4 linked regions of the Homo sapiens genome follow. The protein of the gene in region 3 interacts with the protein of the main gene of each other region in a pairwise test. Each region holds a gene or a part of one and is shown on either strand. Other genes may lie near its edges. The genes, in order: WFDC12, CXorf66, ASPH and GUCA2A.

The links.
Region 1: the proteins of ASPH (region 3) and WFDC12 interact in binary tests that used the Homo sapiens proteins (3 or more experiments, as listed by UniProt).
Region 2: the proteins of ASPH (region 3) and CXorf66 interact in binary tests that used the Homo sapiens proteins (3 or more experiments, as listed by UniProt).
Region 4: the proteins of ASPH (region 3) and GUCA2A interact in binary tests that used the Homo sapiens proteins (3 or more experiments, as listed by UniProt).

What each region holds. Positions count from the first base shown.
Region 1 is NC_000020.11:45,122,905-45,129,349, reverse strand, and holds WFDC12 (WAP four-disulfide core domain protein 12 precursor), read left to right. Parts: upstream 1-4,884; 5' UTR 4,885-4,902; coding exon 4,903-4,981; intron 4,982-5,084; coding exon 5,085-5,243; intron 5,244-5,406; coding exon 5,407-5,504; 3' UTR 5,505-5,925; downstream 5,926-6,445. UniProt on the Homo sapiens protein: Antibacterial protein. Putative acid-stable proteinase inhibitor.
Region 2 is NC_000023.11:139,962,493-139,969,984, forward strand, and holds the start of CXorf66 (uncharacterized protein CXorf66 precursor), read right to left. Parts: upstream 3,030-7,492; 5' UTR 3,005-3,029; coding exon 2,917-3,004; intron 1-2,916.
Region 3 is NC_000008.11:61,704,574-61,711,604, forward strand, and holds part of ASPH (aspartyl/asparaginyl beta-hydroxylase), read right to left. Parts: intron 1-7,031.
Region 4 is NC_000001.11:42,162,170-42,168,916, forward strand, and holds GUCA2A (guanylin precursor), read right to left. Parts: upstream 2,577-6,747; 5' UTR 2,544-2,576; coding exon 2,469-2,543; intron 1,442-2,468; coding exon 1,234-1,441; intron 802-1,233; coding exon 737-801; 3' UTR 521-736; downstream 1-520.

The sequences.
Region 1 (6,445 bases), on a different chromosome or scaffold from region 3:
TCAGCCTCCCAAGTAGCTGGGATTACAGGCATGTACTACCACACCCAGCTAATTTTTGTATTTTCAGTGGAGACAGTGTTTCACCATGTTGGCTGGCTTGTCTTGAACTCCTGACCTCAAGTGATCCGCCCGGCTTGGCCTCCCAAAGTTCTGGGAGTACAGGCGTGAGCCACCACGCCCAGCCAAAGATCAAGATTTTAATGTCAAGAGCATCAGCATAGAACTTTGCAGTTATCCAGTTTCATTTAGAGTTATACAGCTTCCTTACAAAAGGGAGGAACTGGCAAATCAACGAAGCGGATTGCTGTTTTAAGCCAGTACAGAAGTAAAAGATTGACGACAATGACCCTCCAGTATAACAACATTTAGTCCCAAGAATGATGATGTCCTTCATTCCACCTTTTGTACATACCTCAAAAGCCACAGTATTTCACCATACCCACTTACCAAGCAAACTCCCCATCTTTTGTCAAAGTAAAGTGCTACATTTACTACATAATTTCTTTATTAGGAACTGAAGATGTTTAACACTGTGGTCATGTTTTTATTGGGTGTGGGTTCTGTTTGTTTGATGTATTACTTATGAGACTGCACAAATATTGAATGTTCTACTTCAACTCTATTTTTTCCAGAAGCCCTATTATTTGTAGTGAGCAAAACTCTGTAACCTAATGATTTTCAGGAATATATATTCCACGTTTATGAGAAATATATCTTCCCTTTCATTCCCTGTCTTAGACTCCGCCATTTTGGTTCAAGGCTTTCCACTTTCTTGAAGCACATAAATAAATGATGCCCAAAAAAGACAATGAATGTGAAATCTGGTTAATGTAATTCACAAAATAACAGATTGAAGAGACAATCCATATATTTATTTCAATTGATGAAGAAAAGGCATTTGATAAAAATTCAACATCCTTTCATGAGAAAAACTCTTAGCTAACTAGAATTAAAAGGGAACTTTATTAACCTGATTCAGCAGAACATGGGATGAATTCCACAAGGTCACATGGCATGGGCTAAGGAATGCCTTTACTGGGTGAAACCAGTGAGCCAAGGATCAGCACTCCTAAGCATGGGATACTCCCAGCAGACACTCCCATCATTACTCGCTTCAGCCTACATTGAGGTGTTCTGAGGCCATGCACAGCTATTAGTCAGTGAGGCAGGACAGCAGCGTTTCTCAACATCAATACTATTGGCACTTGGAGACAGATCATTGTTTGTTGTGAAAAGCTGTCTTGTGCATTGTTAGATATTTAGCAGCAACCTCAGCCTCTAGACACTGGATGTGAGAAGCACATCTGTCCCAGTTGTGACAATCAAATATGTCTCCAGACATTGCCAAAGTCCCCTGGGGACAAAATAACCACCTTTTGAGAAGGTAGTTTACTACTACAAAACAGGAACATTGTCCCCTGCAATTTTACCTTCTTATAATATGAATATGAGAAGTTCCTTATGGGGCTTGCTTCCTAGACAGTCTAGGTTTCTAGGAAACCTAAATGTAAGCCTAAATGTATTTATATATATACATATATAAACATATTTTTGCTATGTATATATGTATATATATATGTAAACATATTTTTGCTATTGAGTTGCAGTTCTTTATATATTTTGAAAATTAACCCCTTATCTGGTAGGTAGTTTGCAAATATTTTTCCCATCTCACAGGTTGCCTTTATTACTAAATATTTTACATGTTATTGCTTTTAACGTATTACATTTTTCTAACCAATATTTCTAGTGTATAGAAAGCAGCTGACTTTTATATATTGATTTTTGTGTCAGCTAATCTTGAAAAATTGTCTAACTCATGATGTATCTGTAGTTTCTTTTGTGTTTTTATTATTGCATCATTTGCAAACAATGGCTTTTCTCGTCTCCCATTCTAATACTTATTTCTTTTCTTTTTCATTATATATATGTGTGTGTACATATGCATATATATATATATATACACACACATATAAATATAAAGACCCAATTAAAAGTGAATAAGACTTAAACAGACATTTCTCCAAAGAAGATATACAAATGGCCAACAGGTATGTGAAAAGATACTCAACATGTCTAATCATCAGGAAAATGAAAATCAAACCATAAGATCACCTCATACCTGTTAGGATGGCTTTTATTTTAAAAAGAAAAGAAAAAGAAAACAAGTACCGGTGAGAATGTGGAGAATTTGGAACCCTTGTGCACTGTCAGTGAGAATTTAAAGGAGTATAGCCACTACGGAAAACAGTATGGAAGTTCTTCAAAAAATTAAAAATAGAGCTATCACATGATCCAGCAATCCCCCTTCTGGGTATTTATCCAAAAGAATTTAAATCAGGATCCCAAAGAGATATTTGCACCTGCAAGTTCATTGCTGCAATATTCACAATAGCCAAGAAATGGAAACCTAAATGTGCATTGACCCATTGACAGATAAATGAGGGAAGGAAAAAGATTATATACATGTACATATATATGCATACCATGGAATATTATTCAGCCATAAAAAAGAAGAAAAGTCTATCTCATGCTACAACATGGGTGAACCTCAAGGACATTATGCTAAGCAAAATAAGCCAGTCACAAAAGGACAAATATGGCATAATTCCACTTTTATGAAGTGTCTAAAGTAGTCACTTATAGAAGCAGAAAACAGAATGGTGGTTCCAAGGGTCTGGGGGTGGGGGGAATAGGGAGTTGCTATTCAGTGGGTTTCAGTCATGCAAGATGAAAAAGTTCTAGAGACCTACTGTATGACACTGTGCCCACAATTAACAATACTGTTAGTATGCACTTAAAAATATGTTAAGAGGTCATGTCTTATAGTATATATTTCTTACCACAATTTTTTAAAAAAACACGGTGTTGAGCAAAGCATGCAAAATACAAAAGAATACTTAGGCCATAATTACGCTTACACGAAATTAAACAACACGTATCACTAAGCAAGCCATAGCAAGAGAGCAAAACTTTAAAGGAAAACATGAGGATGATTAACAGAAAGTTCAAGATAGTGGTTACCTCTGAAGTAGGGATGGTAATGTCCTATTCTAAATTGATAGGTTCATAGGTGTTTATTATTCTTTTTCAAAAGGTATAGAATGTTGATTACATTCTTTCATATGTAGGATTTATTTTACAATACTTTTTTTAAAGAAGTATCATCAACAGTCAATTACAAATGACATTTTGGGGAGAACCGGAGAAACAAATATGAACTGGCTATGAGATGACATGCAGAAACTATTAATTATCTTAGATATGATAATGGCTTTGTGATTATATTGAAGAATATCCTTATTCTTAGAATTTGCATGCTGATGTATTTAGGAAATAGGAACATAATGTATTCAATTTCATTTCAAATATTTCAACAAATGTAGCTATAGGTATTCTAAAATATCCCAAACTATTAATAATTGTTAAATCCAGTTGTAGGTATACAAGTATCATTGTTCTGTTATTTCAATTTTTCTGTATGTTTAAAAAGTTCATAATAAAAAGGTGGAGGAGGAAATAGCCAATACATTCCAACATTCTAGTATTTGTTTATGAACTTCCCAGATTCCATCCCTGGTATCCAAATGATCTGAGTCCAGTGATATGACTGGTGAGATTGTAACCAAAGATTCACCACCTAATAAGGAGTAGGCTCACTTCCAGGAATGGAGGTATCCTCCCTGCCTCCACTTAACCCCAACTCAGTCCCTTCCACACTTCAGGATGTGGAACACCCCAAACCCAAATCTTTGCATTACTCAGGGGTCCTGTTAGTAAATGACAGAAATCCAATTCAGACCAGCTTAGGCAGAAAGGTGAATGTATTGGGTGGTAACATAACCCTGGGTATGAGTGGGGCTGATCTCAGGAAAAAGTTTAGTGAAGGACTAGATATCCTCTAAATTACTCCCTGTCCATCTCTCATCTCTTTTTATCAGCATCTTAGATTTATCTTCTCAGAATTTCTCTCTCACCAGGGCCAGGACCAAATTTCTGGAGTTTCTGGGCTTATATCTGCAACTTTTCCAACAGGAAGGATTTTCCTCCCTTTAGTACTCATTCAAAGAAAGGACCCCAAAAGCCTGGTCACACACACACACACACACACACACACACACACACGCACACACGTCCATGTCTTCTTCCAAATCCAGGAATTTGGGGGATGCAGGGGCAGAGGAGGGAAAACAAATCCTATGAAGATGATACAGTATAATTATTATGCTCATTGTATGAATGAGGAAACGGAGGCTTAGAAAGGTGAAGCTGCTTTCAAAGTCACACAGCTGGTGACAGGTCCAAAATCTGCTTTCCTCCAGGCCACATGAGATTGGCGGGGGGCAGGAGCACACGGTGCTGGAGCGCAAGGCTGAGAGTGAATGTTCAGGACAGACATTTTAAGCACTGCCATTCAGATTCTTCCTTGGGGTGAGGTGAGAACTGAGAACAAGTCCGGGGCAGCACAGGAAGGAGGGAAGATTTTGGTCCCAGGTGAATCAGGCATGAAGAGGGACTGATAGAGAACACGGTGGAGTTGAGGAAGTCTGGCCCTGCCACTGCCTCGTGTGTGAACTTGAGTAATTTCATGCCCTTTCTGTGCTTCTTTTCCTCCTTCCATAAGATAGTTTGGCCCTGGTGGCGCCTAATGGTCAATCACGTGTCCATTTCTTCTCCTCGTGTGAAGAACGAGGGTCGCTCTTGGATTTCTTCATCTATTCCAGTGCAGAGCCTTAGGGAAAGCCCCAAGTCCCTCCTCAGAAGGGGCCATTTCCAAATAGAGCTGGGAAGTGCAGCCTCCCTTGCCATTTTGAGCCTTCAGCTCCACCCACTGGCATGCCCAGCAGGAACACTATAAAGCCAGGCTCAGCCCAGCTCCCAGCCAAGCACCTGCCTGGCAACATGGGGTCCAGCAGCTTCTTGGTCCTCATGGTGTCTCTCGTTCTTGTGACCCTGGTGGCTGTGGAAGGAGTTAAAGAGGGTGAGCAGACATGGTGGAGCTGGGTGGGGCTGGGCTGGGGAGAGGTCCTGAGGGGCCCTCTGGGGCTGGAGTTCTCATATCACCTTGTGGCTTCCTCCACTAGGTATAGAGAAAGCAGGGGTTTGCCCAGCTGACAACGTACGCTGCTTCAAGTCCGATCCTCCCCAGTGTCACACAGACCAGGACTGTCTGGGGGAAAGGAAGTGTTGTTACCTGCACTGTGGCTTCAAGTGTGTGATTCCTGTGAAGGAACTGGAAGAAGGTAAGGAGACCTGCCTCCCAGGGCTGGGGCTGTCCCTTCCCTGCCTCTATCTGACCCATGAAAGTTCGGAGGAATTAGTCCCTTTAGCTGGTGTGGGGAGGGATGGCTAAAGCTGGCAGGGCCCTCAGAGACCACCTAGTCTGAACATCTCCATTGTCCAAAGGAGGAAACAAGGATGAAGATGTGTCAAGGCCATACCCTGAGCCAGGATGGGAGGCCAAGTGTCCAGGCTCCTCCTCTACCAGGTGTCCTCAGAAATGATGCTGGGTCCTTTCTACCTCTGGGGGTCACTCTCACTTGGCACCTGCCCCTGAGGGTCCTGAGACTTGGAATATGGAAGAAGCAATACCCAACCCCACCAAAGAAAACCTGAGCTTGAAGTCCTTTTCCCCAAAAAGAGGGAAGAGTCACAAAAAGTCCAGACCCCAGGGACGGTACTTTCCCTCTCTACCTGGTGCTCCTCCCTAATGCTCATGAATGGACCCCTCATGAATGAAACCAGTGCCCTTATAAGAGACCCCAAAGAGCTGCCTTGCCCTTCTGCAATGTGTGATCACAGCTAGAAGGCACTGTCAGAGAAGAGAAACTGGTCCTCACCAGATGCTGAATCTGCTGGTGCCTTGATCTTGGACTTCCCAGCCTCTAGAACTGTAAGAAATAAATATTTGCTGTTTATAATCCACCCAGTCTATGGTAATTTGTTATAGCAGCCCAAACCTGCTAAGACAACCTAATAGTAAAAAAAAAAAATCCTATTCAACATTATCAAAGTGAATAAAATATAAAATACCTACAAATAAATCTAGAGATGTACAGAAATTTTCTGAAAGGAAACCCTAAAACTTTATTAAATGACATTTTAAAAGATCTGGATAAATAGACTAAACTTTTCTACAGAATAAATAAATAAATGTTTTTTAAAAGATATGCTCTTCCCCAAGCAGGAAGCCTCCTCAAAGTGTTCACCTTGGTCAGCATAATTTATACCTGAAATATAATTAAAATTAAAACCCACTGGGTTTTGCAAACCCTAATGAAATAATTGATTCTGGCAATGATTATCCATGGCTTCTGAATATTTACAGGGTGCCATTTCATCACCCTGTGGTATATTTACAGTTTGTAAGAGGGAAAACACAAGTTTACAACTTGAGGATTCAGGTACACACCGAAAACACATTAATCTGTCTCCACAATGCTAA
Region 2 (7,492 bases), on a different chromosome or scaffold from region 3:
ACAAATAGGAGCTGGTACCATTCCTTCTGAAACTATTTTAAATAATAGAAAAAGAGGGACTCCTCCCTAACTCGTTTTATGAGGCCGGCGTCATCCTGATATGAAAACCTGGCAGAGACACAACAAAAAAAGAAAATTTCAGGTCAATATCCCTGATGAACATTGATGCTAAAATTCTCAATAAAATACTGGCAAACCGAATCCAGCAGCACATCAAACAGCTTATCCACCACCATCAAGTCGGCTTCATCCCTGGGATGCAAGGCTGGTTCAACAAACGTAAATCAATAAATGTAATCCATCACATAAACAGAACCAATTACAAAAGCCACATGATTATCTCAATAGATGCAGCAAAGGCCTTTGATAAAATTCAACACCCCTTCATGCTAAAAACTCTCAATAAACTAGGTATTGATGGAACATATCTCAAAATAATAAGAGCTATTTATGACAAACCCATAGCCAATATCATACTGAATGGGCAAAAGCTGGAAGCATCCCCTTTGAAAACCTGCACAAGACAAGGATGCCCTCTCACCACTCCTATTCAACATAGTATTGGAACTTCTGGCCAGGGCAATCGGGCCAGAAATAAAAGCGTATTCAAATAGAAAGAAAGTCAAATTGTCTCTGTTTGCAGATGACATGATTGTATATTTAGAAAATCCCATCATCTTAGCCCAAAATCTCCTTAAGCTGATAAACAAATTCAGCAAAGTCTCAGGATACAAAATCAATGTCCAAAAATCACAAGGATTCCTATACATCAATAATAGATAAGCAGAGAGCCAAATCATAAGTGAACTCCCATTCACAATTACTACAAAGAGAATAAAATACCTAGGAATACAACTTACAAGAGATGTGAAGGAACTCTTCAAGGAGAACTACAAACCACTGCTCAAGGAAATAAGAGAGGTCACAAACAAATGGAAAAACATTCCATGCTCATGGATAGGAAGAATCAATATCGTGAAAATGGCCATACTGCCTGAAGTAATTTATAGATTCAATGCTATTCCCATCAAGCTACCACTGACTTTCTTCACAGAATTAGAAAAAACTACTTTAAATCTCATATGGAACCAAAAAAGAGTCTGTATAGCAAAGACAATCCTAAGCAAAAAGAACAAAGCTGGAGGCATCACTCTACCTTACTTCAAACTATACTACAAGGCTACAGTAACCAAAACAGTATGGTGCTGGTACCAAAACAGATACATAGACCAAAGGAACAAAACAGAGGCCTCAGAAATGACACCACACATTTAAAGCCATCTGATCTTTGACAAACCTGACAAAAACAAGTAATGGGGAAAGGATTCCCTATTTAATAAACGGTGCTGACAAAACTGGCTAGCCATGTGCAGAAAACAGAAACTGGATCCCTTTTTTACACCTTATTCAAAAATTAACTCAAGATGGATTAAAGACTTCAATGTAAAACCTAAAACCATAAAAACCCTAGAAGAAAACCTAGGCAATACCATTCAGGACATAGGCATGGGCAAAGGCTTCATGACTAAAACACCAAAAGCAATGGCAACAAAAGCCAAAATTGACAAATGGAATCTAATTAAACTAAAGAGCTTCTGCACAGCAAAAGAAACTATCATCAGAGTAAACACGCAACCTACAGAATGGGAGAAAATTTTTACAATCTATCCATCTGAGAAAGGGCTAATATCCAGAATCTATAAGGAACTTAAACAAATTTACAAGAAAAAACAAACACCCCCATCAAAAAGTTGGCGAAGGATACGAACAGACACTTCTCAAAAGAAGACATTTATGTGGTCAACAAACATATGAAAAAAAGCTCATCATCACTGGTCATTAGAGAAATGCAAATCAAAACCACAATGAGATACCATCTCATGCCAGTTAAAATGGTGATCATTAAAAAGTCTGGAAACAACAGATGCTGATGAGGGGAGGAGAAATAGGAACGCTTTTACACTGTTGGTTGGAGTGTAAATTAGTTCAACCACTGTGGAAGACAGTGTGGCAATCCCTCAAGGATCTAGAACCAGAAATACCATTTGACCCAGCAATCCCATTACTGGATATATACCCAAAGGATTATAAATCATTCTACTGTAAAGACGCATACACACGTATGTTTATTGCAGCACTATTTACAATAGCAAAGACCTGGAACCAACCCAAATGCCCATCAATGATAGACTGGTTTAAGAAAATGTGGCACATATACACCATGGAATACTATGCAGCCATAAAAAAGAATGAGTTCATGTCCTGTGCAGGGACATGGGTAAAGCTGGAAACCATCATTCTCAGCAAACTAACAGAGGAACAGAAAACCAAACACTTCATTTTCTCACTCATAAGTGGGAGTTGAACAATGAGAACACATGGACACAGGGAGAGGAACATCACACACTGGGGCCTGTTGTGGGGGTTGGGGGCAAGGGGAGGGAGAGGATTAGGACAAATACCTAATGCATGTGGGGCTTAAAACCTAGATAATGGGTTGACAGGTGCAGCAAACCACCATGGCACATGTATACCTATGTAACAAACCTGCACGTTCTGCACATGTATCCCAGAACTTGAAGTAAAAAAAACAAAAAACAAAAATAAACCCCTACTGTATGTTAAGTCCCTTGCCAGATTCATTTATATAGTATTAGCTAGTTTGGTGGGGACAGGTTGGTATATTGAGTGGGGAAGGGTGGTAAAGGAGGACCATAAGTCTGTCATCTTGATGCTTATATTTTGCTTAAGTTTTTTAATATCAGCTGTTGTATTAGAAATTCTTGAAGACCTACTAATGTTAACACTGCTAAAAGTAACAGCAGATTTCTTAAATACAGCTGGCGTTTCTAATTAAATACTTTAATGTATACTGTAACAGATCATAATTTACAAGTTTTAAGGTTAGGCACCTACCTGTAGTAGAAGATCCATTGGTTTGGTTTGTAGTCATGCAATTATTTTTCCAAATGGACAAAAGTAGGACACAAATAACAAGATTCATGTCCGCAACTTGGTTCAAATGATTTGTCTACTAAGGTAACTACTGAATTTATACAGTTCAGAGTGTTCTAGGCATTTATGACATCATTACCATTGTGTGTCATACTCTGACAACATAATCTCACCATAGGGAAGCATAAGCTTCTGTATACAAATTTTACCAAATGACTTTTTTTTTTTTTTTTTTTTTTGAGACGGAGTTTGGCTCAGGCTGGAGTGCAATGGCATCATCTTGGCTCTCTGCAACCTCCACCTCCCGGGTTCAAGGCACGGTGGCTCACAGCTGTAATCCCAGCACTTTCGGAGGCGGAGGTGGGCGGATCACTTGAGGTCAGGAGTTCAAGACCAGCCTGGCCAACACGGTAAAACCCTGTCTCTATTAAAATGCAAAAATAGCTGGGCATGGTGGTGGGCACCTGTAATCCCAGCCACTTGGGAGGCTGAGGCAGGAGAATCACTTAAACCTGGGAGGTGGAGGTTGCAGTGAGCCGAGATTGCGCCACTGCACTCCAGCCTGGGCGACAGAGCAAGACTCTGTCTCAAAAAAAATAAAATAAAGAGTAAAAAAGAAATGAAAGAACATGTCCTATAAAGGTGACAGTGTTTGAAATTATGCATTTGGGGCCATTGGAATATAATAAAATTAAACATTAATTGGAAAACCCCCAGCCTGGCCAATATTGTGAAACCCCCTCTCTACCATAAAAAAAAAAATACAAAAATTAGCCGGGCGTAGTGGCAGGCACCTGTAATCCCAGCTACTCAGGAGGCTAACACAAGACAATCACTTGAACCCAGGAGGCAGAGGTTGCAGTGAGCCTAGATGGCGCCACTGCACTGCAGCCTGGGTGACAGAGCAAGACTCCATCTTAAAAAAAATAAAAAACCAAAAAAAAAAAAATACAACTCAGTTTTACCCTGAAGGTCTAAATAATCCTGCTCATACTTTTTAACTGTATAAAAATCAGAAAATGTTATTCTATTGCTTTTGAATAAGCTGCTTTTGAAAATTTGAATAGGGCTTATAAAGTGAAAGAATGTATCTGTCACCTTTTTTAAAAAAAGAAATCAGGTTTTTTTTTTTCCCTAGTGTTGGATACATGGTAGACAAATATCTTAAAGCCAGTATTTCAGAAACAGCTTCCAAATTAATTTGAACATTAACTTCATATTCATAATGGTTACAAAAACACTTTACTTTCTTTGGCTTTAACATAGATTTATATGATTTTTATTTCATTTGCAAGTTTACATGACTAGCATGTTAGTAATAATAGATTTCACTCAGAAATTCTAGGTATTATTTTGATAAAAATTGTATATAATAAGTACACTATAAAACCCCATTTCTTGCTTCATATTTGTTGTTGTTATTGTTTTGATTGTTGCCAGGACTAGAGTAAAACCCAGTGAGATATTTGCCTGTAGCACAAAATTTAAGGGGTGTTGCAAAATTCAGTAATCAAATAAGATTTTAACGTGATATTTAAAAACCAAAATTAATGCCAAAAATCTATGACCAACAAAATATTGAACATTTAAATAAAGACAGGATCTGATTCTGCATTTGCATGAGCCTGTCCCACTCCCCTCACCCTAATCCCAGCTCTGTATCTTGAGCCTGCAGGGCCATATTTATTCTTTTCCACTTTAAAAAGCAGAGGGGAAGGGTCCAAGGACTTAGCCAGGTACTTAACAGGGCTGTGTCCCCAAGACCCCTAAAAATCTCACTAGGTCATTTTCCCCAGAGAGCTGCTCCTGGGCCCTTGTGTAATGATTCTTGGTGAAGAATGGCTGCTCCTGGTTTCTCTCTCCTTGGTTCTCCAGAGATTAACCTGTACCACTTTTCTGATTTCCGCCATTATATTTGATTGTCTTGCTTCCAATGTCTGGCTGGCGTCATATCTATAGGAATCAGTAGTAGGAAAAGCTCCTAAGCTCTTCCCAGCACCCACATGGCAAGTTTGAACCTTTGCCCTCATCCGGGTGAGAGGAACCTTTCTGGGGTTGCCACCTTGGGGATTTCTACTGCCCTCCTCTGGACCTCAATTGACAGTGCAATTCCGCCTTGGGCCTTCAACTTTTTCCCCTTATTTGATTTTTTTTAATTAAAAAAATATATGCACCTTATAAAAATTTTAAATCACACAGAGGTATTTCAGACTTCCTTTATCCCTTGAGATCTTCTGACCCCTTTAAAATTGCTTTAAATATTCCTTACTCACAGCTTGTGAAGATGCCTGAAATCTTCATCTCTATTTTTAATTGCACTTTAAAATTGCATTAGGAATATATTAATATTAACCCATTCTCATTATGAAAAATACACAAGACAGACATATACAGAATAAAACGTTATAGACTCTTTTCCTTCCCCACTCCACTCTATCCCCATTCTGGAGACAATGACACAAAAATTTGATGTGCATCTCTCAGATCTCTTTCTACATATTTACATACATATCTATGTACATGATGCACACCCATACTACATATAAATGGGAACATTCTATAAATATTCCTTTTCAGGATTTAAAAAAATCACACAACTATTCATATGCTGATATTCATAGCAGTATTATTCGCAATAGCCAAAAGGTGGAAACAACCTAAATGTCCATCAACAGATAAATGGGTAAACAAAATGCGGTATATGCATACAACGGAACAATATTTAGCCTTAAAAAGGAAGGGAATTCCAATATATAATACAACATGAATGAACCCTGAAAACATTATGCTAAGAAATAAGCCACATATTATATGATTCCACTTATATGGGGTACTTAGAGTGGTCAAATTCATAGAGACAGAAAGTAGAATGGTGGTTACCAGGGGCTGGGTAGAGTGGGGAACGGGGAATTATTGTTTAATGGGGACAGAGGTACAGTTTGGGATGGTGGAAAACTTCTGGATATGGATGTGATGATGACTGTACAGCAATGTGAATCTGCTTGATGTCACTGAAGTGTACACTCAGAAATGGTTAAAATAGTAAATTTTATGTTATATTAATTTTCTGCAATAAAAATATTTAAAAAAAATACACAACTAATGCTTAAACCATTTCCTTGTAAAAAAAAAAAAAAAAAAAAGTCACATGTGGCTGGGCACGGTGGCTCACGCCTGTAATCCCAGCACTTTGGGAGGCCAAGGAGAGTGGATCACCTGAGGTCAGGAGTTTGAGACCAGCCTGGCCAGCATGGTGAAACCCCGTCTCTACTAAAAATACAAAGATTAGCCAGGTGTGGTGGCAGGCACCTGTAGTCCCAGCTACTCGGGAGGCTGAGGCAGGAGAATCGCTTGAACCCAGGAGGCGGAGGTTGCAGTGAGCCGAGATCGCGCTATTGCACTCCAGCCTGGGCAACAAAAGCAAAACTCCATCTCAAAAAAAATAAAATAGAATAAAATAAAATAAAATAAGTGGTCAAGAAATGTTATTATTATTGGGTATAGTACCCACTTTTAGAGAGTTGATAAAGTAGGCCAGCAGATAATACCTATGTTGTTAATATCAGGAGTCAGGGACTGAAGGGAATTTGAGAATGGGGGCCAGAAAGAGAAGCAGAAGAGTCCCCAAATGGAAAGTGAGTGGTTGCCAATCAACTCTAGTGTTTAACTTTATGAAACAAAAAGTAGAAGAGATATAAGAACAAATAGATAGAAGCAAAGTTATACTACACAACTTTCAGCTCAAGATAAATCAAGTGGACACAAAATTATTAAGGAGGTAGAATATGTAAATAACATAAAATATAATCAATAGGGTTGATCATATATACATATATATGGAACTTTACAGTCCTTCCTTCTCTTTTTCACAGACATAATGAATTGTTTTATCTTCTTGGGGGCAGGAAATCTATCATTTTGGAAAACCACTTCTTTCCACCTCAACCAAATGGTCTTGATAAGAACTAACAATTATAGTATCCCTCTCTCCTGGCCACAAGGGTGAGCATGTGGCTCAGGCTAGACCAGTAATCGGTTCCCATCTCTAACCATAGTGATTGGTTTATAGTTGGGCATGTGACTCAGGACAGGCTAATCAGAAGTTTTCCCCAAAGATTTTTCAAACAATCTGGGCTGAGAAATTCCCTTACCACCAGCGCAGTAAACCTGGAAAAGATGTCCAAAGGTACCTGTGACACAGCCCCTGATGGCAGGAGTAAGCTAATTAGAAAGGATGAAAGTGGCTGGGTGTGGTGGCTCATGCCTGTAATCCCAGCACTTTGGGAGGCTGAGGCGGGCATATCTCTTGAGTTCAGGAGTCCGAGACTAGCCTGGCCAAAATGGTGAAACCCCGTCTCTACTAAAAATACAAAAATTAGCTGGGCATGGTAGCACACACCTATAATCCCAGCTACTTGGGAGGCTGAGGTTGGAGAATTGTTTGAACCCAGGAGGCAGAGGTTGCAGTGAGCCGAGATCACGCCACTGCACTCCAGCCTAGGCCACAGAGTGAGACTCTGTCTCAAAATAAATAAAC
Region 3 (7,031 bases):
AAATATGTGCTATATATATCTGAAAAGAACTTCTATCCAGAATACATAAAGAATTACCGCTCAGCAACAAAAAACAATAAAATTAGAAATGGGCAAAAAAGAAACTTCACTAAAGATAATGGGTGTAGCCAATAAGCACAAGAAAAAGTGCTTGACATCATTATTCATCAGGGAATTGCAAATGTAAACTACAGTAAGAAGCCACGGCATACCCACCAGAATGGCTAAAATTAAAAAGACTGACACCACCAAATGTTGGTACATATGTAGAACAACCAATTCCACACATGGTTAGTGGGAGTATAAAATATATTGTACAACTACTCTGCAAAAGAGTTGAACAGTTTCTTAATAAAACTAAACATACACCTACCCTATAGCCCAGTAATCCCTCTCTTGCTCAAGAGAAATAAAAACATATGTCAAAAAAGGCTTCTATAATATTCATAGAATTTTATTCATAATAACCCAAAACTAGCCCAAGTGTCCACCAATAAAAGATGGGGTTAAAAAACTGTGCTATACAACACGAATGGAGCTGGAGGCCACTATCCTAAGCAAACTGACACAGGAACAGAGAACCATGTTCTTATTAATATTTATAAGTGGGAGCAAAACATTGACTACCTACGGACACAAAGAAGGGAACAACAGACACTGGGGCCTACTTGAGGGTGGAGGGTGGGAGGAAGGTGCAGATCAAAAAAGCTACTCAGCAGGTATTAAGCTTATTACCTGTGTGACAAAATTATCTGTACACCAAACCCCTGTGACATGCAATTTACCCATATAACAAACCTGTATATGTACCCCTGAACCTAAAATAAAAGCTTAAAAAAAATTGTGCTATAGTCAGACACTGGAATACTATTTGACAATAAAAAGGAACAAGTGACCGTGTACACAACATAAACGAACTAAAAAATATTATGCTGAGTGAAAGGAGACTTTACAAAAAAAAGTACTTGCAAAAGAAGTTCTAGAATAGAAAACACTAATCTATGATCAAAAAATGTAGTACAATGGCTGCCTCTGGTGGCAGAGGTGGACGCAAGAAAGGGGCTTGAGAGAACTTTACAGGGTGATGAAAATATTCTCTATCCTAATAGGTTATTGTTTTACAAAGGTAGAAATGGATATAAAAACTCCTCAGATCAGACACTAAAATTTGTGCAATTCACTACGTGAAAATTTTACCTCAGAGGGAAAAAAAAACAAATGCTAAGCTCTAGTTAGCTACAGGCACATGTAAATGTTTATGAAAGTGAAATATACTAATACCTGCAACTTACTTCGAAAGGCATGAAAGAATAAGATTGACTAATAGACATGACAAAGCAAATCTATCAAAATGTTAACCGCTGTAGCATCTACATGGTGGAGTCATTACAGAACTCTTTCAATTTGGATACATATTTTTTAAGTTTCATTAAAAAATGTTAATTTAAAAATACTATTGAAAATGTTTTTTAAAATACAAAGTACCCAGACTTAATCTAATAAAAGATGTATATGACTTTCAAATAAGATTATAAAAATTGTCAGACTTAAATACATAAGAAATTATAGGCCAGGTGCAGGGCTCACACCTGTAATCCCAGCACTTTGGGAAGTCGAGATGAGCAGACCACTTGAGCCCAGGAGTTTGAGAGCAGACAGGCCAACACGGCAAAACCCCATCTGTACAAGAAATAAGAAAATTAGCCAGGCATGGTGGTGCATGCCTGTAGTCCCAGCTACCAGGGAGGCTGAGGTCGGAGGATCACCGGAGCCTGGGAAGTCAAGGCTGCCACAGCACTGCAGCCTGGGTGAAAGAGCGAGGTCATGACTCAAAAAAAAAAAAAAAAAAAAAAAAAGAAGAAGAAGAAGAAGAAGAAGAAGAAGGAGGAAGAGGAAGAAGAAGAAGAAAGAAGAAAGAAGAAAAAAGAAAGAAGAAAGAAGAGAAAGCAGGCCAGCCGGCCAGGTGCATGTATAAGAAGATTCAGTATTATAAACATCTGTATTTGTCCCAAATTGTTCTATAGATTCAATACAATGCCAGTAAAAATTCTCAAATATTTTTCATGAACATATTTGATAAGCAGATTCTAAAATCTAGAGAAATGGATGAGGAAAGGTCCCAAAGCAGCAAACACAATAGTGAAAAAGGCAGGGTAGAAGGACATGCCCTATCAGATATGTGGACTCATTACAAAGCTATAGTGAGCAATTCAGTTTGGTGTTGCTTCTACATGCCTGGAACAAAATAGAGCCCGACGTATTCATACACAAGAGGTGATGCTGCAGACTACGGTAAAAAGATGACAAATCAACTAACAGTACAGGACATTCTCATTGGCCCTTTTTAAAAAACAATACTGAATTAGATCCCTAATAACAAAATATACAATAAAATGCTACACCAGGTGGTTCAGAGATCTAAATGTAAAAAAGCAACGTTTCAGATCTTTTAGAGGAAAATACAAGAATAATTCATAACATCTGTGTTATGTGTCTTACAAAAAGTATAAAGGTGTGAACCACAAAGTACAAAATGGAAAAATTCTATTAATATATTAAAATCTTAAAATTCTGTTCAACAACGTATACCATAAAAAATGAAAATGTGAGTAAACACAGACTAGGAGAAGTCCTTTATCAAAAATAATCAAAAGGTTCAGGATATTAAAAAAAAAAAATCTACCTATCAATACTACAAATACAAAACAAAAACAGAAGAATAGGCAAGATATACGAACAGGCAATTCAAAGGAGGAAACACAAGGCTACTCTTACCAGTAACTTCACTAGTAATTAGAAAAATGCAAGTTTAAACCCTCAAGTACTACTTCACAGCCACTCAACTGGCAAATATTAAACTTCACCAAATGTTGACAATGTGATGATGGCACAGAACAAGCTCTTATTCATTAGGGGCAGAACTGTAAGTTGATACAACCACTTGGGGGTTAAAAAATGGCAATATCCAGTAAAGTCTAATGTGTGTACTTTCTATGACCCACAATTCCAATTCCAGATTATGCCCTAGAAAAACACTCAGACATGTATGCATGGGGAGAGATAGGCACATACATGTACAGGGCAGCATTATTTGAAAGAAAAAAAGTGGCCTGCGATAGGATGGCTAAATGAAAAGCAAGGCATATTCATATGGTGTAGAACTACATATGTGAAAATAAAGAACTGGAGTTTGGAGGAATTTCAAACAAATGCTGTCAAAATAGTATGCCAAGTAGAAGCCTGTTCACAAAACTTTTAATACGTGCTATACAGTATATATACATATATGTGTGTGTGTGTATAGGTATATTTCTACACATAGGGATATAGATATACTTCCTGGGCAGTTTTCAAATACATTGATTTAATAATAGATACAGTTTACATGTGTGGATACATAATGTGTATGTGCTACATGTTATATATTATTTTGTGCATATATACCTGTATTTATGATAATGACTACCATAAAATGTTTAACAATGGTTAGGAAGGAATACCACAGGAGAGGAAAATCTAGGAATCTGATAATGTTTCATTTCTTCGCCTATATGGTCAGTACATGGGCATCCACTGCATTACTCTCTACAATTATTTATAGGCTTAAATATGTACTATTTCAAATACATACAATTTTAAAGAGCAATACACAGAAATATTTTTATTATAAAGGTTAGAGAACTAGCTCTCTGCCAAAAAGCAAATCCATGAAACAACTTACAAAAACTCAGTGACAAGCATCTTATACAAATTGACTTGATTCAAAGAATGGAAAAGTAGTTAAATGCTAGATATTCTTTCAACAAATATTTACAACACAGATTTTGAGGTTTATGTAAGTCAAAAAATTAAGTGTCCTAAATAAAATTTACAAGTGAAACTAAGACCAAAAGAGTCTTTCCAGTATACCAAGAAAATTGAAATTGAAAGCAGCCTGTGAAAGATAGGGACAAAAACTGTATATTAGAAGAATAATAAATAAGAAAAAGAAGTTACAGACAGGATAGAACAACAAAATAATAGTGACTCTGCACTATGGAATGGTAGAAATGGCTGTCAAACCTATGTAAAATATGAGAAAAGGCAGTTACAACAATGCTGGTTGTGAAATAAAATTATCAAAGGATATTCTCCTACTTTAAATTTAAGACTGATCCTTGGGGTCTTAAGTACAGGATGAGTCACTGGGTTCAACGTGTGGGCACACATGTAGGAGAGAAGTGCTGGCATTTCTCCAAGTACAGAGATAGTGGCTGCCCTTGGAAACCTGACTATAACTGGACAGCAACCACTCCCACCCCCCAGCCCCCCACCCCTCAACCAAGTCAATTCACCAATGCTCTCCGCTCTGGAGCACACATAGTATCTACGGCAGATGATGACAGTCACATGACTAGGCAAGTGACCTGAATCTCACAGGGGGCCGAATAGCCCAGATCCTTCAAAAGATGATTTTCTTTTTAAAAAGAGTTATTCACCAAGGGAGCTCAACATTTCCTTTGAGTCTAATAGGTTATCTAAACCAAATTTGTCCTCAGCTGTGGCCAATTTGATAGGAACTGAATTACATTCAGTGATTTGCCGTTAAAAGATAACCACATCAGCCAAAGGTAACCAAGACACATCCCTGAAAAACAAAGATCAAATGCAGGACAAAAGCCTGAAGCATCCCTCACATCAGGGGAATAAAATACTAAAATTTTAAAAATAATGACTAACAAGAAAATACCATCTTGGCTCCCAGCAGTACCAGAAGAAAGTATAATTAAAAAAAAGTTAAAGCACTGGCCTCCAGACTATACTCCCACAGTGGTACACAGGGAAGAAAAGAACATCCTGAATCCTTAGTCCTCTAATAAAAATGGCCAGAGCTGCAGGACCGAACCAGAGAAACTCATCACACCCACATGTGCAGTGCAGAGCAGACACTGGCAGCAGATAATGAAGCAAGCAGCCCTTGCACCTCCACATTTCCCGATAGATGGCTGAGGCTTTTCCCCGGAGGTTTAGGTGGGGTGTACATAGGTTATATGTACATACAGGGTTTATTAAAGAGAAGTTCATTTGAAAAACATTTTTGTACCTTGGTACAGAATGAAGTCAAGCCATTTAGAGGTGATATGGAAGTATCCAAGCCACAAACTAAGCTGCATATTTTCATGATATTAAAACAGTGGCTGGAGTTACCTCAAAAGACTAAATATATCTGAGCCTGGGTAAGATAAAATAATGTTACAGATTTCTGAGCCATTAAGGGCAAATCACCAACTTGAAAGTTGATGTGCAAATGGATACTTACACCTCCAGAAGCTGAGAGAAATGTATCGAGCAGTCCTCAAAGCATAGTATAAACTCTATCTCAAGAATATACATTTTACTTAACACAAAGATGCTATGGAACATGAAAATAAATAAATAAATAAGAATAAATCATCAAAAAAGTCAAAGCATGCAATGGCCTGATGACATCTACACTTTTATAGTCTCCAAAGTTTTGCACTCACCCCTACTATTAGACGTACTTTAACGGAAACAACTGAGAAACACAAAGCCATATGAAATCAGCATTAGTGATATCAAAACTCTGAAAAGAAAGTAGATAATAATTCTTTACATTTAAGGAGGCTGGGAACAGAGATTTTTAGCGATTCTTGGTTCTGATTCTTACACAGATATGATCCAGGTCATCATATTCCTTCTCCCAAACTGCACTAGCTTTCTGGAGAAAAGGGTTTTTCTATTGGAACCAGAGAGCTCAGGGGCTAAGTATCTGATATTAACTAACAACAAGATGGATAGACCCTATGAGCCTTTATCCAAGTTCCTCTGTTGATAACTGGCTGAAAATGAAAATGTCATACATTCATTTTCTAATAATCTCTATGAGACAGATTATTTTAAAGCAAGACTAAAATATAGTCCAAAATATAGAACTTTCACTTCCACAGACCACCAGAGGTTAACTGGTCTCTGGAAAATGTGTTCATAAACTCCCTCAGAACATTATTTAGTGCTTGGTTTCATATGATTTGGTCAGGATGGACAAAATGCTGTTGAACTGAACACAAAATAGCTGACGGTTCTTGCAGTGGAAGAATTATGGTCCTCCTATGTTTTCATCTTAGAATGAGTAATGGAGGATTAAGCAATTGGCTCTGATGGTCTTTGGCTAAAGAAAGAAAATTTTGCTAGGGCCTCTTCATTCAAGGGCTCCACAATGCAATCAGCAGTGTATTGAATCCCTCAGTTACTTAGTAATCTAAGAGACACTCAAAGTAGAAAGAAAAAGGAAGCTAAACTAAACTCAGAAGTGTGTTTCTAAATGACAAATACTCATCAAATGAAGCTGTTAATGTTTTACAGGCAGTACAGGAATATATTTCATTCTAATTAAGCCTAAACAAAAAGGCTGCTCAATCTACTGAGACACCTTGAGAGAGTTAAAAAGTAGCTAAGAGTTTTTAAGTGCTTATCTATCAATAGTTTTGAGTATATACAGACGGATTAAATAATAATTAAAACCTGCTGTTACATAACCCCAAGCTTCAAACTAAAAGGGGGATATATTCTACAGTGACACCTAGTGGCAAAAGTTAATGTAGTAGCAGGACACCCAGACAAAATAAACAGGGAGATGGAAAGCTGCTAGGAGATACAGGGAGTTAAGGGGTGATACTCAAAAGGGAAAAACTAAACAAACAAACAGAAAACATTACACATACGAGTGTCTACAAAATAAGCCCAAAAGGACATCATGATCCTTCTTTGTCAAACTATTTTCAAATCAATAAATTTGAAAAAGGCTTCCCCTGGGCCCAACTGGCCATGCAAGTCCAGTTCTATATGCAAAATAAAGGTAGGAAGTCTAATTTATTCATGTTTCTTTTATATTATAAAGAGTAAAACTGAAAAAAAAGTAAAATTGAACTCTGTAGAAAACCATTTTATCATTTTTCAGCTTAAGCTGAAGAAAATAAAAAGCAGACACTTGCTTTAAAAATCTGTGATATAAATTCCCCAAATTCCAGCTT
Region 4 (6,747 bases), on a different chromosome or scaffold from region 3:
GCAAGTTGTCTTGAGGAGAGGCCGTGGAATGAAAGCCTTGGACCCTGAGTAGGAGTTTGCCTGGACAGTAGTGTGGGAAGACGGGCAGTGGAGAGGTGAGCAGCAGCAGAGGAAATGGCAAGAGGTGTGGTTTGGGATGTGGTCAGGGCTGGAGGCCACACTAGCATGGCTGGTGGGAGCCAAGTCCTTGAATACCCAAGAGTTTGGTGCCAGTCTTCTAGTGGGCCAAGTGCCTGTATTGGTTGTCCAAACCAGCTCAGACTGGCTCCCGTGCTCACATGTGGCTCAGTGAACTTGGTGACCTCAGGAGATGTGAAATAAAAGCAAACCCTCCCCACCACCCGCTGCCTTGGTGGTTTGGAGATCCAGATCCTCTCCACGCCTCTGTGTTGTGGCAGCCCCAGGGACAGTGAGCAGCTTAGCAGGGAGAGTGGGGTCCTTCGCTTAGTACATTACATCCCGAGCTTCCAGGGCAGGATAGACTAGGGGATGAAGGAAGGAAGGAAGGCAACACCCAGAGTACTCTGGAATCTGGTTTATTAGCTGGGGGTTGAAGTGGCAGGGAAGGACAGTGTTGGGGCGAGGCCTCCAGTCACCCAGTTCCTCCCCGGGCTGCTCCTCCCGACTGGACCAGGGTAGGTTGAGCTGCTGGGAGTGGAGTATCATGGGTGGCCCTTTCTGCAGGAGAAAAGAGCTTCCCTGCTGCGGAGGGGAGGCAGGCAGTGGGCAAGCCCCCCTAGCATCCGGTACAGGCAGCGTAGGCACAGATTTCACATGTGCCCGGGTCCTCAGCGATTTCCTCTGCACAACAGAGATGGAGCCTCGTGAGAACCAGCATTTCCTCGCGAGGCCCCTGCCGCCCTTGGCCCAGAGCTTGTACGTCACCACCCAGCCCCAGGAGAATCTCAGCAGGCCCGTACTCTGACCTACTGGGCTTTTCGCCCCAAACCAGGGCACACAGACCACTCAAACCAACCAATCAAAGCAGAGATTCCACCAGAAAGAGAGGAAACTAAGACCAGATGAATGGTCTTAGTTCCCAAACCTCAGCAGTTACAACTTGGAATTGAAGTGGGCATGGAACAGACCCACCAATCAGAGCCAAGCTCCCTAGTTCCACCAGTCAGAGCTGAGCCCTTCCTCCAAATCCCACCAATCAGAGCACATCTCTTCCTCAAGTGCCACCACAGTATTCCCGAACCCCACCAATCAGAGAGGAAGGAGGCTGCTCACCCAGCCTCTGAAGTATCTCCTGGGCATTGGGCTCCTTGCAGAGAGGCTTGAGTTCTTCTGGAAAGTTCGGGTTGCTACAGAGGATGGGAACCACAGGTTCACCAGGGATGGGTGCAAAGTTCCTGAGTTTCCCAACCCTGGGCTCCTGGGGCTCCTGGAGGTCTTTGAGCTTCTTCACTGACTCCAGAGAAAAGGAGAAATTTCCATCCTGGAAGAGAGAAGCCCAGAGCATGAGGCCAGGCTGCAGCCTGCTTCCTGGCTGTGCCCCCCGTGCTGGCCCCGGTCCAGCCCAGTGGTGCTCACAGGCAGTGTTCGTGGCATATGGGAGCCAGGCGATCCACAGTGGGGCACTGTGAGGGGCAGAGTTCAGGCCCCACGTCCTGGCTTGGCTCCGTGATGCTGGACACTCTGGAACCCGCAAATTCTGCATGTTGTATGGGGAATGGAGAAAATGGGTGTGAAGCTCCAGGAACACCATAGGTGCCTAATGAGTAGGAGCCAGTGTGCTGATTTTTAGGGAGAGGCAAAGGACCAGCACCCAGGCATCGTAGTTCCACGTGGCCAAGCCCAGGCTGTCTTTCCCCTGCCTGAGAGCGGTGCGGCTGATTACTGGGCCCCCAGCTCCAGCCTGCAGCCTGGTTTTGGTTTGAGAAGCAATAAAAGGCCTCCCGGAATCTGGCTTTGATAGAGATCAGGGCCCCCGCTAGGTGCCAGCTTGGCCTGTCGCCAGCATTGGCACTGGTAGGCATACCCATCTGTCAGGACCTCCAGGGTGTCCATGTGGTTCCTGGGACCCACTGAGGAGTAAGGTCTGGATTTAAATCCAGCTCCTGCACTTCCCACAGCCATGTGCCCATGGCCTGTTACAGAACCTTTGTGAGGCTCAGTTTTCCCCTCTGTAAAATGGGACTAATGATCCCTTTCTTCCAGGTTGATAGTGGAGCCACAGTGAGGGGCTGGGGAAGGAGCCGGCACATAGGACACTCAGTAAATTGGCCAACTCCCCGCCTTCCCCATATGGTTATTCCTCTTCCCTCCACTGGGTTTCTTTCTCCTCCAAAGTTGAAGGGAAAGGTGTGTGTGTGGCTGGACTGAGCAGGAGCTCCTCGAAGAAGGCCAAGCCTGGGACACACACCCTCAATCCAGCCCCAAAGAGGAGGTACTCTCTCAGGGGACCAGACCTGGGCACTAGGGGCAGGGAGCCAGCTGGGCCGGGGTAGGGACACAGGACTCACCTGCACGGTGACCCCTCCTGCCAAGGCGGCCCAGGCCCCAAGGAGGCACAGTGCGGAGAGCAGGAAGGCATTCATGGCAGCAGTGCCCGAGAGAGGGGTGGCTGTTCTGGATGCCAGGGGGAAGCGGCGGGACTTTTAAAGAGGGCAGGTTACTGAGTAACCTGGAAGCCTCTGTCAGTCTCATCTGCTCACCTGTCAGGCCTTATCAGATAAGGCTCGAGACAGCCCTAGGAGATAAGAGCCAGGCAGGGGGGGCCCCGGCCCCTCCCTGAGCACCTACTTTGACCCACAGCCGGGCTGGGTCCTGCATTCATTCACCAACAAGGCACATTCACTCACGACTGCCCTGTGCTGCTGTGTGGGGCCGGCAGACCCTGCCCTTGAGGAGGGGGGCCCAGCCCGACAGTGAAACGCAGGGCGATTAGGGTGGGGTGATCCTAGGATGAGGTGACGGGGCTGCACTGGGGGCTGAGCTCTGGAGAATGGGTGGAAGTTTTCCCAGAGAAGGGACTGAGGACAGAAGGCCATTTCATGCCAAAGGGACAGCCAGGAGGTGAGACGGGCCTGGAATATTCAGGGAAATGTGAGAAATTCCACGGGGGAGGCTGCAGGGCAAGTCAGGGTCTGGGTTTGATTGCCGCGACCTCAAGGAAGCCCTCCGCACAGCCTGGGTTCCGTTCCACCTACTGCCCAGTTGTGAGGCGTGTGAACTTGGGCCAATGCTTTCCCCTCTCTGAGTCTCGTTGTCCCTTGTGTCCCCTGTGGGAACCAAAAATAATACCTACCTCATGGGGTAGGTGTGTGGTAGGCATTACTGTTTGGAGAATCAAGTGAGGTTTTAAAAACATTTAGCTCAATGCCTGGCACACAGAAGGTGCTCAGCAGAGGTCCATTCCCATATTATTAGCAGCCACAGCAGCTCCTGGTCCTCCCTGGCCCCTCTGGTGACCTCCTGCCTGTCTGAGTCACAGGCTGTCCCCATCCTGTGCTGGTCCCCATCCTGTCCTGCCTGCCCTGCAGCCTCAGGGTGTCCTCGAATGAGCTCCTCCCCAATCCGCCCGCCCCCCTTGCCCCTGCAGATACAGTCCCCTTTCCGCGGATCTCACTGGGGAATTGCTTGGGTGTGCCCGCGCCCCTATAGACTCTGACCCCATTCAGACTGCGCCCTCAGGGCAGCGTGCATTCACTGTGTGCTGTTGTGAGCAGGAATCCCCAGGACACAGGAGAAAGGGTAGCCCTGGGATTGTCATCTTTCTACTCAGCCAACCTGGCCCGATGCCAGGACAGCCCTAGGGCGGGAGGTTGGGCAGGAATTCCTGGGTGGGGAGAGTCAACACTGAAGAGGGAATTGGAGAGAGCAGGGCCTGACCAGGAGGGAACTGCAGGGACAAGGCCCTCAGGGAGGGGCAGGTAGCTCCTGGCCCAGCTCCCAGGGCAGTCCTCACAGCTGCACTGGATTTCCCACCCCTTTCTGGTGAGTGTGTGTGTGTGTGTGTGTGTGTGTGTGTTAAGGGGGGGTGTGTCTGCGGAGATGTGTATGTCTGTGTATGCCAAGGTGTCTGTATATACCCTGATGGGTGTGTGTAGCCAAGGTGTGTTTGTATGTGTGCTTGTGCTGAAGGTGTGTGTGTGCTGAGGCATGTGTGTACACTGAGGAGTGTATGTGTATATATGCTGAGGTGTATGTGTGTGTATGCTGAGGGGTATATGTGTGTCCGTGTACACCAAGGTATCTGTGTCTGTGCAAGGAGGTGTGCATATATACATCGAGGTGTGTGTGTGTCAGTGTGTATATACACAGGCGCGTGTGTGTACACCGAGGTGTGTGTGTTTGCTGGGATGTGTGTCTGCTGGGGTGTCTGCTGGGGTGTGTGTATGTGCACTGAGGTATGTGTGTGTGTATGCTCATGTGTGTATATGCACTGAGATATGTGTGTGTATGTGCACTGAGGTGTGTGTGTGTATGCTGAGCTGAGTGCATCTGCTGTGTTGTGCGTGTGTGTGCCGAGGTGTGTGTATACACTGAGGTGCATGTATGCGCTGAGGTGTGTGTGTGCTGACGTGTGTGAGTGCTGACGTGTGTGTATACACTGAGGTGCGTATGTGTGCTGAGGTGCGTATGTGTGCTGAGGTGTGTGTGTGCTGACGTGTGTGTATACACTGAGGTGTGTGTGTGTGCTGAGGTGTGTGTGTGTGCTGAGCTGTGTGTGTGCTGATGTGTGTGTATACACTGAGGTGTGTGTGAGTGCTGATGTGTGTGTATACACTGAGGAGCGTGTGTGTGCTGAGGTATGTGTGCGCTGATGTGTGTGTATACACTGAGGTGCGTGTGTGTGCTGAGGTGTGTGTGTGCTGACATGTGTGTATACACTGAGGTGCGTGTATGTGCTGAGGTGTGTGAGTGCTGACGTGTGTGTATACACTGAGGTGTGTGTGCGCTGACGTGTGTGTATACACTGAGGTGTGTGTGCTGACGTGTGTATACACTGTGTGTGTGCTGAGGTGTGTGTGTGTGCTGAGCTGTGTGTGTGCTGATGTGTGTGTATACACTGAGGTGTGTGTGAGTGCTGACATGTGTGTATACACTGAGGAGCGTGTGTGTGCTGAGGTATGTGTGCGCTGATGTGTGTGTATACACTGAGGTGCGTGTGTGTGCTGAGGTGTGTGTGTGCTGACATGTGTGTATACACTGAGGTGCGTGTATGTGCTGAGGTGTGTGAGTGCTGACGTGTGTGTATACACTGAGGTGTGTGTGCGCTGACGTGTGTGTATACACTGAGGTGTGTGTGCTGACGTGTGTATACACTGTGTGTGTGCTGAGGTGTGTGTGTGCTGACGTGTGTGTATACACTGAGGTGCGTGTGTGCTGAAGTGTGTGTATACACTGAGGTGTGCGTGAGTGCTGACGTGTGTGTATACACTGAGGTGTGTGTGAGTGCTGACGTGTGTGTGTGCACTGACGTGTGTGTGTGCTGACGTGTGTGTATACACTGAGGTGTGTGTGCGTGCCTGGACATGTGTGTGTGCCCACCAAGGTCAGCCACACACTGGTCCCCTCGCTGAGGGCAGGTGGGAGTGGGCGTGGGAGTGAGTGGGGTTAGGGGAAGGAATGGGGCTGAGGGTCGGGGCGTGGGACTTGGATGCTGAGCAACAGGATGTCGGGGGATGGAGCTGGGGGAAAGGTGAGGGGCAGGAGTTTCGGAGGCTGGGGTGGGGATGAACACCGGGAGAAGTTCGGGAGTGCGGCTGAGCTCCATGCTAGACTGGAGCCGGGGCTTGCGGAGACCGGAGCGGGGTTGGGATTGGGGTCAATTCGGGCGACACTAAAGTTGGTTTGGATTAGGGTCAGGTTGAGATGGAGCTGAGGTTGGGCAGGGGTAAATTAGAGTTAGGTGTGGAGCCGAGGGCGCAGTCCAGATTGAACTGATGTGGTGCTTGTAACTGACGTGGAGGCTGGTTTGGGCTAGGTTAGGGCTCATTGGCAGGACTGGGATTGGAGTTGAGTTTGCAGCAGAGATTGGAGGTGTGACTGGGTTAGGTTTATGATGGGGGTGGGTCTGGCTTAAGTGTGACGCTACAGCTGGGTTGGGATTTGACTTTCAGTTAAGGATGGGGCTTAGGTGGGGCCACCAGGCTGAGGACCTGTTTTTTCTGACTCATTTTGGTCTTTCCCCTCCCAAGCTGTGGCAGGAATGGGGGTAAAGGGCAGGGGCTTTCATCCCTGAGCCTCTTTCTCCCACAGCCCCCCTGGCCAAGGCTTGCCTGCTATAAGGCAGGGATGGAATGGAGTGGGTTCAGGAGTGACATCACTCCACACTGTGGGAAAGAGGAAGTGACTCCTAGGCCATGGCCCTTAGGGTCCTCCCCTACCCAACTCCACCTCTGACCTCTACCCTGGGAAATGGGAACCAACTCCCCTTCCCTTGTTCCCCAAGCCCCTCTGCCTAGTCTGGCCCCAGCCGTGAGTTCAGGCCCCCTCCCCTCTGAACCTCCAGGGTGCTCAGGACCTCTGCAGCCTGCTCTGAAGCTGCTGGAAGTTGGATCTTGGGCTCTTCCCAGAACTCCAAGCTTCCTGCCTCCCACCCCAGCCTACACCCTGAGTCCTCAGGCCCTGGTCCCCAGCACCCCCACATCCCTCATTCTTCCATATGGGCAGAAGGAGGGTCTGAGGCTGTTTGGGTTTCCCACACTCCAAGACTGCCTTTTCTGGCAAACTCTTGCTCCTAATAGCCTTCCAGGCCATGCCACCTGTCCTGCCTGCCTCCCCCTCTGAAAACCC